Homo sapiens: one gene and its partner. The protein of the gene in region 1 interacts with the protein of each later gene in a biochemical or structural test. Each region holds a gene or a part of one and is shown on either strand. Other genes may lie near its edges. The genes, in order: IREB2 and OTUD3.

What was found.
Region 2: the proteins of IREB2 (region 1) and OTUD3 form a complex in vitro, tested with the Homo sapiens proteins (one study listed by BioGRID).

What each region holds. Positions count from the first base shown.
Region 1 is NC_000015.10:78,483,130-78,490,406, reverse strand, and holds part of IREB2 (iron-responsive element-binding protein 2), read right to left. Parts: intron 7,090-7,277; coding exon 6,973-7,089; intron 5,647-6,972; coding exon 5,487-5,646; intron 4,703-5,486; coding exon 4,567-4,702; intron 2,675-4,566; coding exon 2,590-2,674; intron 2,228-2,589; coding exon 2,071-2,227; intron 1,761-2,070; coding exon 1,636-1,760; intron 1-1,635. UniProt on the Homo sapiens protein: RNA-binding protein that binds to iron-responsive elements (IRES), which are stem-loop structures found in the 5'-UTR of ferritin, and delta aminolevulinic acid synthase mRNAs, and in the 3'-UTR of transferrin receptor mRNA.
Region 2 is NC_000001.11:19,906,395-19,913,671, forward strand, and holds the end of OTUD3 (OTU domain-containing protein 3), read left to right. Parts: intron 1-37; coding exon 38-222; intron 223-1,175; coding exon 1,176-1,352; 3' UTR 1,353-6,551; downstream 6,552-7,277.

The DNA of each region.
Region 1 (7,277 bases):
TCGTTGATGAACCAAAGCAAAGATAAAAGGACTCAGAAAAAGAGGCGCATGAAAATGATCAAGGGAATAAAATAGTACTTAGGTCACAACAACAACAACAAAAATAGGCCTTATCCATTTGGAAAGAAAATTAAGAGTGTATTCTTTTCTTTTTTTTAAAAAATTTTAAATTTTTATTTTTGCCCAGGCTGGTCTTAAACTCCTGAGCTCAAGCGATACGTGGGCCTTGGCCTCCCTGAGGGTTGGGATTATAGGCATTAGCCACCATGCCCAGCCAAAACAGTGTGTTCTAAAAAATCATGATGTTTTTGGACAGAATGATTAAAAATTTGCTCCTCAAATTCTAGCATACCAGATGTTCAGGAACACTCCAAGGGGCAAGTTTCAATATAAACAGAACATAAAGACTTCACAGAGTCCAAAAAAGTTAAAGAATTTAGAAAGATTTCTATATGTTGCTACAGAGAGATTAAGCATGTATGAGGTATGCTGTTAATGTCTAAGAATGTTATAATGGAGAAAAACCTCTGCTTTTTCAATGTATTTGTTCCACATCAACGCCTTCAAACTACAGCCAAAAATCTCACCATTTCTTAGGCCAGGCACAGTGGCTCACGCCTGTAAACCCAACACTTTGGGAGGCTGAGGTGGGCGGATCACTTGAGTCCAGGAGTTTGAGACCAGCCTGAGCATTTTTTATTTTTTATTTTACAAAAAATAAAAAATTAGCTGGGCCTGATGGTGAGCGCCTGTGGCCCCAGCTACTCAGGAGGCTGAGGAGCAGGATTGCTTGAGTCCAGGAGGTTAAGGCTGCAGTGAGCTGCTTCAGGCCACTGCACTCCAGCCTGGGTGACAGAGTGGGGTGCCATCTCCCAAAAAACACCAAAAAATAAATAATAAAAAATAATAAATATTGCATAATTTAGCTAATTATTCTCTTTACAGCTTATTTGCCTCTCCCCAGGAGAATTTTGTGTTTTGTTCAATGATGTATTCTGAACACCTAATCAATTCTTTCTTTTCCCCCCTCAACTGTTATTTTAACTTCTGGGGTACATATGCGGGATGTGCAGGTTTGTTACATAGGTAAATGTGTGCCATGGTGGTTTGCTGCACAGATCATCCAATCAACACTAATGAATTCTGATCCTCTAAGACATTTTCTTTCTTTTTTTTTTTTTTTTGAGACAGAGTTGCACTCTTGTTGCCCAGGCTGGAGTGCAGTGGCGCGATCTCGGATCACCGCAACCTCCGCCTCCCAGGTTCAAGTGATTCTCCTGCCTCAGCCTCCTGAGTAGCTGGGATTACAGGCATGCGCCACCAAGCCTGGCTAATTGTTTTGTATTTTTAGTAGAGATGCGGTTTCTCCATGTTGGTCAGGCTGGTCTTGAGCTCCGGACCTCACGTGATCAACCTGCTTCAGCCTCCCAAAGTGTCGGGATTACAGGCGTGAGCCACTGTGCCCAGCCGCCATTTTCTTTTTAACTACAGATTCCAGATACAAACTTACTATTACACATTAAAAACTGTATTCAAAATAATGTAATTTTAATTTTTATTCTATTCAGAAGATATATGAAATAAAAGAACACTGCAAATTGATTAAACTATTTAAGAAACACATAAGACTCTTACTTCTATTTTATCTTTTAATGCTTTAAACATGGATAGTATAACATGTTCTTCCTCTACTCGATGAACTTCTTCTCGACTAGGCCAAATATCATGCAGGTAAATGTTCTTGCCGGTGGGGTCAGTACCTGGTTAAAATTTTTGAACATGATACTCAGTAAAAAAATAACTCTGAAAATGTTCATACCTTTTCAAAGACATATCATGGAAATCAAGTAAATGATTCAACAGGGTGCTTCAGGCTTAAGCGGCTGGAAGAACTAATTACCTGTACATTTTATTTTCTTCACATAAACACAGAAATTAATAACTATACATTATCATACGTCTTCCTGAAATAATTCAAAGAATAGATGGTCTAAGAAACATTTCAAAAATATAACGACTTCCATTGGGAAAAGTATGTGTAGGTATACATATACATAAAGGAAAAGATACCTAAAGGTTCTGTCTGGAAATCTATATTCACTGTGCCTGCTATGGCATAAGCTACCACTAAGGGTGGAGAGGCAAGATAATTGGCACGAACACAATCACAAAGACGACCTTCAAAATTTTTGTTTCCAGATAAAATTCCACAGGTAACCAAATCACCCTGAAAAAAACACAAACACACAAACAAATAAATTCAATTCTAGAGATGGTACAAATCTGGATAATCATATATAAGCAATCTTAAAGTCTGAGGGCGAGATTAACCAAAAAACATATTACTAATTTTTAAATATAGAACTATGCATCTTGCAAATAAACTAAATCAATTCCTTGTATTATGAAGGAATTATTTCAAGGATCTACAAATGATTCATTGAATCATTTAAAGATTCACAGGTTACTATTGCCAAGAGGTGCAGAGTTTACAGAAATATAAACACATCAATATATATTTTCTATAATTTAGTAACAAAACATAGTTAAGAAAATCATTTAGATGTCTTGCCAATCCACACATTTTACCTGTTTTACTGCATTTAAAACTGCGTCTGATAAGGGTGCTGTATTTCCCACACAAATTGAACATCCATAGCCAACGATTTCAAATCTGCATTTCAAAAAAAAAGTGACTGAATAGCACATCACAACATTTATAGAGAAAGGACAAGTCTTATCTTGTATTTCTATCACTGTAATAAGATTACTTAAAAGACTATTCATGACACATGGATTAACCTTCATCAATATATTCACCTCAGAAGATTCTGAGCAATCAAGTCTAACTCTCAGGCATGCTATTTGAACCAGCTCACTGCAGCCTTAACCTCCTGGGCTCAAGCAATCCTGCTCCTTGGCCTCCTAAGTAGCTGGGGCCACAGGCGCTCGCCACCAGGCCCAGCTAATTTTTTTATTTTTTGTAAAATAAAAAATAAAAATGCTCAGGCTGGTCTCAAAGGTGAATGCAAACCTTTGAAGAGCCTTAATAGCACTTATCACTGTACAAGAGAATTCCCCCAAATACTACTTGCTAGGAATATAACATGACCTTTTAAAATAATTGATACTGTACTTCCATCCAAGAGTTTAAAATGTAAAGAGGACCTGGCTATAATAACCTGACCAAAGGTCCCAAAAGAGGCATTGATTGTAATTGGGCACTCTGATAGGAGTAATCTCTCAATTATCAACCAGTTAAACCCAAGAAGAGTCTCTGACAATAAATCCAAGATAATATAACCAAAAGATTACAGGCACAGTCCTCTAAATTACTTTCAGATGCTATTCTAAAAGCAAAAAAGTCTAAAATTTATCAGTTTTGCAATGGAATTGATGACTCATATGTTCCAAAATACACACCGAAAATATAACTAGGCTGGGTGTGGTGGCTCAGGCCTGTAATCCCAACACTTTCGGGGGCCAAGACGAGCCGATCACTTAAGGGAACAAGTTTGAGACGAGCCTGGCCAACACAGTGAAACTCTGTCTCTGCTAAAAACATAAAAATTAGCTGGGTGTGGTGGTGCACACCTGCGGTCCCAGCCACTCAGGAGGCTGAGGTAGGAAGACTGATTGAGCCTAGGAGGTCGAGGCTGCAATGAGCTGTGATTGCACCACTGCACTCCAGTGTGGGCAATAGAGCAAGACACTGTCTCAAAACCAAAAAATCCCCACACAACTAGCATCAATTGTTTTGGATTACATAAAAAACATAGGTTACTTTTTTTTTTTTCTTTTTGAGATGGAGTCTCGCTCTGTCGCCCAGGCTGGAGTGCAGCGGCACGATCTGGGTTCACTGCAACCTCCGCTTCCCAGGTTAAAGCAATTCTTCTGCCTCAGCCTCCTGAGTAGCTGGGACTATGGGTGTGCGTCACCACGCCTGGCTAATTTTGGTATTTTTTGTGGAGACGGGGTTTCACCATATTGGCCAGGCTGGTCTCAAACTCCTGGCCTCATGATTTGCCTGCCTCGGCCTCCCCAAGTGCTGGGATTACAGGCGTGAGCCACCGCGCCCAGCCCAAAAAACATAAGTTACTTTCTCCAAAGTTCAGGGACAATTTAAACTTATGTATTATAGACCCAATAACCTCATAAAACTAAAATTAAGACAATTTTCAGTTAATAAATGCAAACTATAAGATTTCTTTCTTTTTTGAACTGACCTACACAACTCACAGAAATTGTGCATACTTGGTATCGTTTCTTACACTGTAACTGTTATTTGGTTGTACTTGTTTGTCTTGTCTTCCCAACTAAGTATCTTGAAGCTAAGACCACATCTCCTACTTCTGTGTATCCAACCTGGTGCTTTGCTCATTTGATATGCCCAATAAGTGTTTCCTGAGTGATAAGGCATCAAAAATTGTATGGTAATGGCAAGGTAGCAAGTAAAACTAAAGCATATTTTTTCTATCTTCTCTTTGTATATGAAAGGCACAAACAAGCAGCTTCAGTACCTACTGAACACCAATATCAATATGAAGTGCGATAGCTGTTACTTACCCAAGCTTACTTAGATATGGTAATACTCCACTTGAACTGAGGTAATGTGTAACCATCCCACTGCCTGGAGATAAACTTGTTCTTATATAAGGTTTAACACGCAGACCAGCTTCAACAGCCTTTTTAGCCAAAAGACCTGCACAGCCAACAAACAATGATTTATTATGGCAATGTTTCTTTCCCTCTCTCACCCATATTAAAGTAAAAAGTGAGAAGTAATTTATTTAACAGATTAAAGTATGAATTCATAAACTTACTGTCATTATTTTGTCCACTTTATTCTACTGATTTGCTTCATTTACAACAAATTTAAAATTACAGCCTTTATGTTGAAAATTATTAAGATACAGGCTGACATCATTCACACAGAGTAAACAAAAGGTGCACATATATAAGTACATGTTAACAAAACCATTTTTTCTCTTTCTTCTTTTTTCTAAAGCAAACCATTTTAAAGTCATAATTACAATAAGAGCAATGTAACACATTATACATGGTTTTATACAACTAAGGAATTGTTCCAATGGGCATACAAATTAATTTCATTTACAATCCTTGCCAAGACAATGATCTTTTACTACTTTTATAACTTTTAATGAAATCTACCACACTGTTATGGTTAACTTCTAGATAATCAAGAAATACCTGCTAATTAACTATAGTTCTAAATTAACAAGAGAAGCAGATACAACCTAAAATTAATTGACAGGTAAGTTATAGTAAACAGTAAATTTACCTTCGGTGTAATAAAAACAACATAAATCAAACTCAGGCTCCTTAAGACCTAACTAAAATACTAGAAAGTCTCTCAATATCAAATGTAGACACTCATGCATCATCTAAGAAACAAAGTTACAATAACAGAAAAGCCAACAATAATTAAGGAAAAAGAAAAAGTATGGCCATAAACCACAACCCACCTGCAGCAAGCATGACAGATGGATTGCAATTATTGGTACAACTGATAACTGCAGCAATGACCACTGATCCATGAGACAGCTTATATTCACTTCCTTCATAATGAATGGAGACAATATCCTTTTGTTTTTCAGCTGCAATTTGGAAGCCTTTAAATCCAACCTATACAAATTTCCACAAAAATATAAACTAAATATTCTGGGTATGTACAGAATAAAAGACTGGCAGAAAACATAGCAGATACCGGACATTTGATGATTTAACATTAAAAATCCTTTTTGTGAGTGATGCTAAAGGCCCATAACATTCAGTAGTTGTAATTCAGCTGAAGCATAAATCTGCATGGGCACGACAGGAGTCTGGTGATGTTCACAAGCAAAACTTTTATCTACTAAGCGAGTCCAGCCTACCACCCAGAATCCAGATCTCATTTGGCTTTGTTGTTCTTAATCATCCCTGTTTATAGTAATTCTCAAGAGATGGCAGAAATTTTTTTCTGTTAAAATGACCCCGAAGATTTCCTCCAAAGGGATCCTATGTGTGTGAGTGTAGCATAGCTGAAACAAGATTGGCTATGAGTTGCTAATTATTGAAGCTAATTGACAGGTACATGGCAATTCAGTGGACTATTTTGTTTTTGTACAAGTTTAACACTTTCTGAACAAAAAGTCAAGAAATCATAAAAAGAAAGGCTCTGAAAGGAAAGCCAAGTACTAGAGATCTCAGAATAGAGAAAGTGACAAGACTAAAACTGTGATTCTCAGACAGAAAATACAAACCCTCAAAAGCCAGAGACCACTTGCTACTCGGTCACATTTACCAAATTTTATGACTGTAGGCCAGGTGCGGTGGCTCATGGCTATAATCCCAGCACTGTTGGGAGGCTGAGGTGGGCAGATCACTTGAGGTCAGGAGTTGAAGACCAGTCTGGCCAACATGGTGAAACCCTGTCTCTACTAAAAATACAAAAATTACCCAGGAATGATGGTAGACTCCTGTAATTCCAACTACTTTGGGGGCTGAGGCAGGAGAATCGCTTGAGCCCGGGAGGGGGGAGGTTGCAGTGAGCCGAGATTGTGCCACTGCACTCCAGCTTGGGCAACAAAGTGAGACTCTGTCTCAAAAAAAAAAAAAAAAGTTTCTGTGATGATGTAACTATTCAATTATCTATGCTGTTCATCAATACAAGACCCATATGTATTCAGCATTTAAAAATGAGACTACTGTGACTAAGAAACTCAATTTTAAATTGTATATAATTTTAATTTAAATAGACACAATCAATCTCTGATCCTCACAATGGAACTGGGAACAAGCTTACCTAATGACTGACTTGCACATTAGACAGAAGGAAAATAAGGGGGCTGCTGGTGTGTGCCATAATATATAAAACATAGCAGTGAATTGAGTTTATGGGTCACCTTGTTGGTTCTTTACTACTTAGCACAAAGCGGGTTGAAAAACACGGATAAGAATAAAGTAACCTACCTTTTCATTTAAGCAAGCCTGGAAATCGCTTTTCATATCTGTCACAGCAACTCTATCCTGAGGTCTTTTTGGACCACTAACAGATGGAACTATTGAATTCAGATTAATCTGGATCACCTAAGAAATGAGAAAGAGAAAGAACAAGGAATTAGAATTAATTCCTTACGACAGATTCCAATTGAAGCATTACTTTCTAAAGCAGAGTAAGTATATTCGTATTTATTTTAATGCAATTTATTTTAATAGTATAATACACCCTCAACCCCAAGAAATAAAGATTTTAAAACAAGCACATTTAAATGTAC
Region 2 (7,277 bases), on another chromosome or scaffold:
AGGTTCTCAGTTTTAATGAAATGTCTTTCTTTGGAAGATGCAGAAGAGAATCTTGAGCCCAGTGGTCGAGTGCTGAAGCAGTGTGGCCCTTTGTGGGAGGAGGGTGGCAGTGGTGCCAGAATCTTTGGAAATCAGGGCTTAAATGAAGGCAGGACCGAAAACAATAAGGCACAGGCCAGCCCTAGTGAAGAAAACAAAGCAAATAAAAACCAGCTCGCAAAGGTATGTAAGATGGGGTTGAATGGGCAGGTGGTGGGCAGGTGTAATTCTGTGGCAGTGGTGGTAGCTTGAGATTAATTTTATTTGTATTTTCCTTCTGATTTATAAAAGTAGTGTGGAAAATCTGGGGAATGCATAAAGCTACATCAAGAAGCAGAATGACCTCACTTATCCTGTTTGGTGTATGCCGTGACAGTTGGAAGGAAATACACCCTGAAATTGTCCTCAGTGTACAAATGAAAAGCCTCCTTTTCCCACCTAACATTACTGTACATGTGGGCTCTTCCCATGTTTATCCATGTTTTTTATAAATGCCATGATCTGCAATGAACACCTTTGTGTATAAATCTTTGGTTTTTGCATTATTTTCTTGAATAAAGTCCCAGAAGAGGAATGAACAGGTTAAAGGTCATGGATACATGAATCTTTTAAAGGCTTTTGGTAAATTGTCACGTGCTTCCCAGAAAGGTACATCTCCCTCCCTGCCCTTCACTCCCACAAGTAGTATGTGACATCTTCCATTTTACTGAATTTGGAATCATTTTAAAGATTTTCACCAAGAAGTTCTGAGCTCAAAATGCCACAGTGTAAAAAGCCACAGCAGAGGCAGAGATGCAATAAGCTTCTGAGGATTTTGTCAGAATTACCTGGGGCATTAAATTATGTGGGGAAAAATGTTCTCTGACACGTTTGTTTGTTACCAACTCTTGCTGGATGAGGGCTGGTTTCTTTAAGAGAAGAATGGAATTGATTTTGTTTGCTAGTTCAGCAAGGAAATATAAATTTAAATGCAAATTTGAGCAGCAGTGGACAGTAAATCATCTTTGGCGTCTTAGATTGGTTTTCCCTGTTCCTGCTGAAAAGCAATCTGTGCCCTTTGCCACCATCTCCCTTCTAGCAGGTGGCAGCTTGAGTCCCCCGTGCTTCCTACTCACCACCATGGCCTTCTCTCTCAGGTCACAAACAAACAGAGGCGAGAACAGCAGTGGATGGAGAAGAAGAAGCGGCAGGAGGAGAGGCACCGCCACAAAGCCCTGGAGAGCAGAGGTAGCCACAGGGACAATAACAGAAGCGAAGCAGAGGCGAACACGCAGGTCACCTTGGTGAAGACCTTCGCCGCTCTCAACATCTGACTCTTTGGCCTCTTGGGAGTTGTAAGAAGCGGCTGGAAAAGGATTGCTGTGTGCTAGACTTTCCAGTGAGGCCGTCCTTTTATAAAACGCAACACAACCAACGAAGCCCACACATGAGCTCACACACTGAGTTAGTTTCGTTCAAGCTGCCTCTTTTTTTGTTCGAAGTTTTATTAGTGATATGTTGGTGTTTTATGAAAATGCAGTGAGGCCATTCATATTCTGTAATACAAAATTAAAATACTGAGTTTTAGGGGCAGATAGTTAGGTCAGGAAAAACCTTTTAAGTGGTGGCTTTATTTGCCCTGAAAATCAGACTTCAGTGACCCTAGGATCTTTCCTTAACATTTGGGGTGAGTTTTGCTGTAATTGTTCATGAGTAGTTTAGAATAATTGTTAGAAATTCAGAATGACAAGTTTCCTTAGTTTCTCTTTCATTCTCAAACAGATATATAGGGTAGCTTATAAATGATCTCCAACTCAGGAATATGCTTTGATTTACTTCTAATCCAAGTTACTCAGAAAATAATTCAGGAATTGTTTTCCCAAAGTTACGTGAGGGTTGTGGCCTGCAGTCAGGATGGAAATTAACCGCATTTCTCTCCTTCCTGATTCTGATGTTATTTCAGATGGGATGCAGGTGCTGTTAGTTCATTTGCACTCAAGCCATATGATAAATGCAGCTGACTGTTAATTAGGCCTGGCCTTGTTGGGAAGTTGATAGTGGTGTTGGGTTTTTGGTATTTGTTTCCTGACAGTGGGGAGATGGCATGTTACTGCTTGTGATACAGTTCTGGAATTCTGATAGTGTGTAGAGCAGGGTCTATAGTTGTAACAGGAGACGAACTCCTGGGGTTTTGCCTAAGAGGAGTCTAAAGAATTATGTTTTTATAGGAGAAGCCTGGAAGAATAAGGTTTTTCATGTTCGCATTTTAAATAACGATTTTCTTCCCTTCTGTTGTAGACTTAGATGCCTTCAGAGAGATACGTGGTAACTTGACCTTATAGGTCGCTAAACTTAGTATTGTGGAAATTAAATCTTATAAAATGCTACATTTATTTCTTTTTATTTAAGCCCTGTTTGGCATTTCAAAGTTGGGAAAACTCCAGCATCTGCTGGAAGTTGTTGGACCAGCAGGGTTGGTTGACTTAGGTTGGACCAGCAGAGAAGAGAACATACTTTGGTTGAGGCCTTCGAATCACTCTTCAGTTCTGAAATAGACAGACTTGAGCAGTGGAGAGACGTCTTTCCTAAAACTGAGTTAGGTGGATGTGAACTTAAGAACTATAACGTATGAGGCAGCCCATCTTGGATCATCTTTGTCTTTTGGGACCTAATACTTGGGCAAATAATTGATGCTGAGTTGAAAGGTAAATTATTAGTTATCTTCCCCACCCCTCGCATTTCAGAATTATAAAAATTCGGAGGCAAATTGAAAACTAAAATGTTTGGTAGGCCCTGGAGTCGCCAGATTGTCTTTATCACCAGGCCTTTGGCTTTCTTCAGTTTCACTGGTATCTTTTGGTTTTGTTTTTGACTTTGGTGGCTTTTTGTAGTTGGAGCATCAGTAGTCTCTTGGAATTGCTCCTAGGACATTGTGGTTTAGGTTTCTTCCTGGGTACAGTACATTGTAAAATTTAGCAGATTAAAAAAAGTACACAGCATTTTTTTTCTGTGCACGTCGCAGAGTCCTGAGCTTGAGGCTGTGTTACTCTACTCATTCCAAACGAATGAAAGATCTCTGTTGCCTTACTCTAAGGAAGTGGGATCGAGTGCGTTAGGATCTATGGTTGTCTTGGTTTTCAACTCTGGGCAGATTCCTGACTGGCTGAGTGTTTCTGAATGAAGATGTTTTCCTGTCTGTTTTGTACTGCTTGAGTGCAGAGGCCAGATCCTCTCAGAAAGATAAGATTGTATGCCAGAAATTCAGATTAGCAGTCAGCTTAAGAGAGACTTATTGTCAGAAGTAGTAGAATTGCTTTATTTACTTGGTTAATGAAGGTGGCCTTGGGCCCTATTGGGTTTTAGAAGTTTTAGAAGCTGCTAAAAAGTTATTAAAGAATATTGGGAACATTTATTTTTTAAATTACCTAATTCTGGTAATAGGCTTCAGCATTTCTGGAGTATAATAATGGTGGTTTAAAAAACTAATCAAACGGCTTTAGTAATTTTACTACTGGTTTCACAGCTTTTCAGTTACAGTTGGTCTGTTTAGTGTGTTAATTATTAGGAATCGGGTACATGCATCCAACTTCAGTGATACCTTCTAGCTAATGGTTTCAATTTAGACTTCACTGCCTCAGTCTCACTGGGTACATGAGAAGGTTGGAATCAACATGCTTAGTTGCCTCAGTGGGCACTTGAAAATTCCTTCACTGGCAGCCCGAGTGGAGGCCCAGTATGTCTAGTCCTGGGATGACTGTTGTCAGCAGCTGTTACTCTAGTACAGGTGCTCCTGTGAACTCTTTATTAGGAACTGAATGTGTCTTAACCTCTGTGTTACATCTTGGCTGGCAGAGATTTATGTTACATGAGATTGTCTTGGTAGCTTGTAGTGTGGTCAGGAGAAAGGGGATGGAGCAGTGGTGCATAGCTGCTTACTGCTCTTATAAACGGTATATAAAGGTTTTACGGATTTTGAAAATATTTTTTTTTAGAGGTCAAAATAAATACCATTTTAGTGGCAACAGCTTTGAACTAGAGAGGTAGATGTATTAAAGCAGCATAGAACCATAACTTCTAGATAATGTAGTTGCCACTAGGAGATATTAGAAAGTTAGAATGTATGTGTGTATTTAGTTTTTCAATAATAATGAACATACACTTTCAGGAGCAAAGTATGGTTGAGAAATTGTGGCAGAAAGAATTTTAAATGTTAGTCGAAGTTGTCTGTAGTTTCTTTATTAAGCTCTGAAAACACTTCCAATGCCAGTTTGATTCTGAGGGCTTGGGAAGTGGGATCTCCCTTGTGGAGCAGCTGGAGCTGGCTGGGAGGGAGCCTCTCCATGGGTAATTTATTATGCCTGCCCTGCTTCCCCCAGGGAGCTGCTTCAGTGTGAAATGATGTGATTGTCGGGGGTGGGGTGGGAGGAGGGCCACCTTCAGTCGGGGAGTTGCTCACATATTACACAGGTAGCATCAGGTGGACTTCAGCGCTGAACTGTACTAGTAGTGAGTCCCTGTAGTCAATGTGCAATTTCTCTAATTCTGAGAAACTCTGTAGACTCTGCCTGGGTTTTACTGGGTCAGCATAGAATGCTATCAGTTTACCTCTGTGAAATATTCAGTCAGTTGAAGGAAACTTGGATTCCTAGTCAGAGGTGACTAAAAGTTACCCTGACCAAAAGGATCTCTGCGGGGGGAAGAGAATGGAGCTTCCTGATTTTAATGTGTTGCGTCAGTGGCCCTCTTCGACTCCCGTTTTGGGTAGATGCGTAGCTCTTCACTTTCTTACCTCAAGGCTCTGTCTAGCCATGTTAAATCTTTAGACTCAGTCTGATGCCGTTTTTCTGTTTTGCCATTCTCATTATTCACAGCTTTCAGAACAAGTGTTGCTAAAACTCCGGGGCCTTTGACAGTTGTTCTGAGGTGATTTAATAATGGACTTTTTATAAGTTATGTTTTCCTGGCTCTAAAGTAAATTTTTTTTTTTTTTTTTTTGAGACAGAGTCTTGCTTTGTTGCCCAGGCTGGAGTGTGGTGGGGCAATCTCGGCTCACTGCAACCTCCACCTCCCGGGTTCAAGCGATTCTCCTGCCTCAGCCTCCTGAGTAGCTGGGATTACAGGTGTGTGCCACCATGCTTGGCTAATTTTTGTATTTTTAGTAGAGACGGGGTTTCACCATGTTAGCCAGGCTGGTCTCAAACTCCTGACCTTGTGATCTGCCCGCCTCAGCCTCCCAAAGTGCTAGGATTACGGGTGTGAGCAACCCTGCCCGGCCAGTAAATTGTATTTTTTTAATGACATCATTGATTTGAAGATCTAGATGGCATAAATTACGACGTCTGCCATCGCATATTAGAAAGGGGACAGTCATATTTGTAACGTGGAGAGAACACGGAGCACCAGTCACCACGTGCACTTAGGATGCAGAGCTTACCGCACACCGCTGATGGGGACCTCCGGAAAGAGCGGTGCCTTGTGGTTGGCCTGGAAGTTCTCTCCCAAGGTGAAATTCCTTTAAAACCTCAGGCTCTGACCTATGTCTTTGAAGCAGCTGCTTTGTAGAGTCCCTCTCTTTACTGTCCTCGTTAGGACTGTTTTGTGGTTCCATGAAAATGTTTAGCATCCTTGCAGAATTACTTGAGAAGGGGCTGGTACCAGTGTAAAGAATCTATTTCTGTAAAACTACGAACTTTTGCATAGGGAATTTATTCTAAGCAGGTCATAGCCGTGATCCAGAGCTGCTGCTGCTCACTGCCAGTCCTTGCGGCTGGCGGCGATTGCCGGACAGACTCTCTGTGGCCTGGCTCTCATCCTTGGCGTGTCAGCCTGCGGCAGGCTGCCAGCCATCCATGACAATCATGTGAGCTCAGCCACAGACCTCAGCTGGCGGTTTGATCCCTGGCAGGTCCCTCGAGCAGTACTGGTAAGAGGCTTCACACATTTTCCCACTCTTACAGTTCATTTTTCATAGTAGGAAGGGCCCTTGGCCTCCCCAGTGCCTCTTCCAGAGCCTCCACCAGCACTAAGCTCAGAGGAAAGAAGAAAAGGGCCAGGAGTCAGACGTCACACCCGGGGGCTCCCCTTTCCCATGTAGAAGTGTTGGCATGCGTCAGTCTCCTTTACAGAGGGGTGGATGTATCCGTGGAGGAGGGGCCTTCTCTCTTTCTAATTGCACTATACTTGTTCTAGCTTCAGTCTGGAGATACTTAAGACCTCCATGGGGTCGTGATCCATAGACTTAGCAAGTCTTGCCTTATCTATGGAGCTCGATGGTGAGAATTGTGACCATTGTCTGATGTCCATAGTTCCTTCCCCCTAGATTGTTTCTTTCCACGGATTGTGTTCATCTGAACCATTTTATTTTTTATTTACCAAAGTACTGTACTTGGCTATTTGCAGTGTTTTCAAAACCAAATGTTTCTTTTTTTGTGTTTTTAATCTTCGATACTTGGTGCAATAGAAGCTGCAAAGATGTGCCACTTTATCTATGAAATGGAGTTTTGTATACCAATAAATTCTAGTTTAAAAACAAAGTTTTAAGTTGTTTTTATCAGTATCTGACCACCGTTTGAGTGAATGCAAGGAGGCTGAGTGTGCTGGGAAATGTCCTTTTTGGAGACCTTTGTGTGGAAGCTTTGCGTGTTTGCGTGTGCTGGATTGAGTATTCTAGGTGTATAATAGTACTTTGGGATCTGACTAAGCTTAGAACAGCTGATTTTTGCTTTAGTGCAGCTAAATGCAGCCACCAAACACAATGGCAGGGTCATTCTTAAGGACTACACACTTAAGATTTCTGCCTGATATCTGAGAGCATCTCTTGATAAGTTTGAAACTGTTTAAATATGTAGCAGTTGTCTGTCAGCGGCCACTTTGGGCTCCTCTAGAACTCTCAAGATTGTTTGACCCCATTCAAGGAGGAGGCTCCCTGCCAAGGCACAGACAGTACCATCTGGGGGCACAACTCACCTAGAAGGGTCCACAGGAAACCAGAGCGAAGGGAGTCCTTCATTGCGTCCAGCAGGGGCCCCATCCACACAAGGGCTCTGGCTCGGCAGACCTCACCATGTCATGATTTTGACCTTGAGACTCCCATTCTCCCATTCTTCATTTTGTATTCAACAAGCAGCCTTCTGAATTGGCTCCCTGTTGCCTTGACACAAAAAAGGACTAGATGGTTTTCTGGATGAAAGTCAAGAATATTCTAGCTTCTGCAAGCAGATTCTCCCACAATCTCTCAAGTGATCTTCTCTGTGTGATTC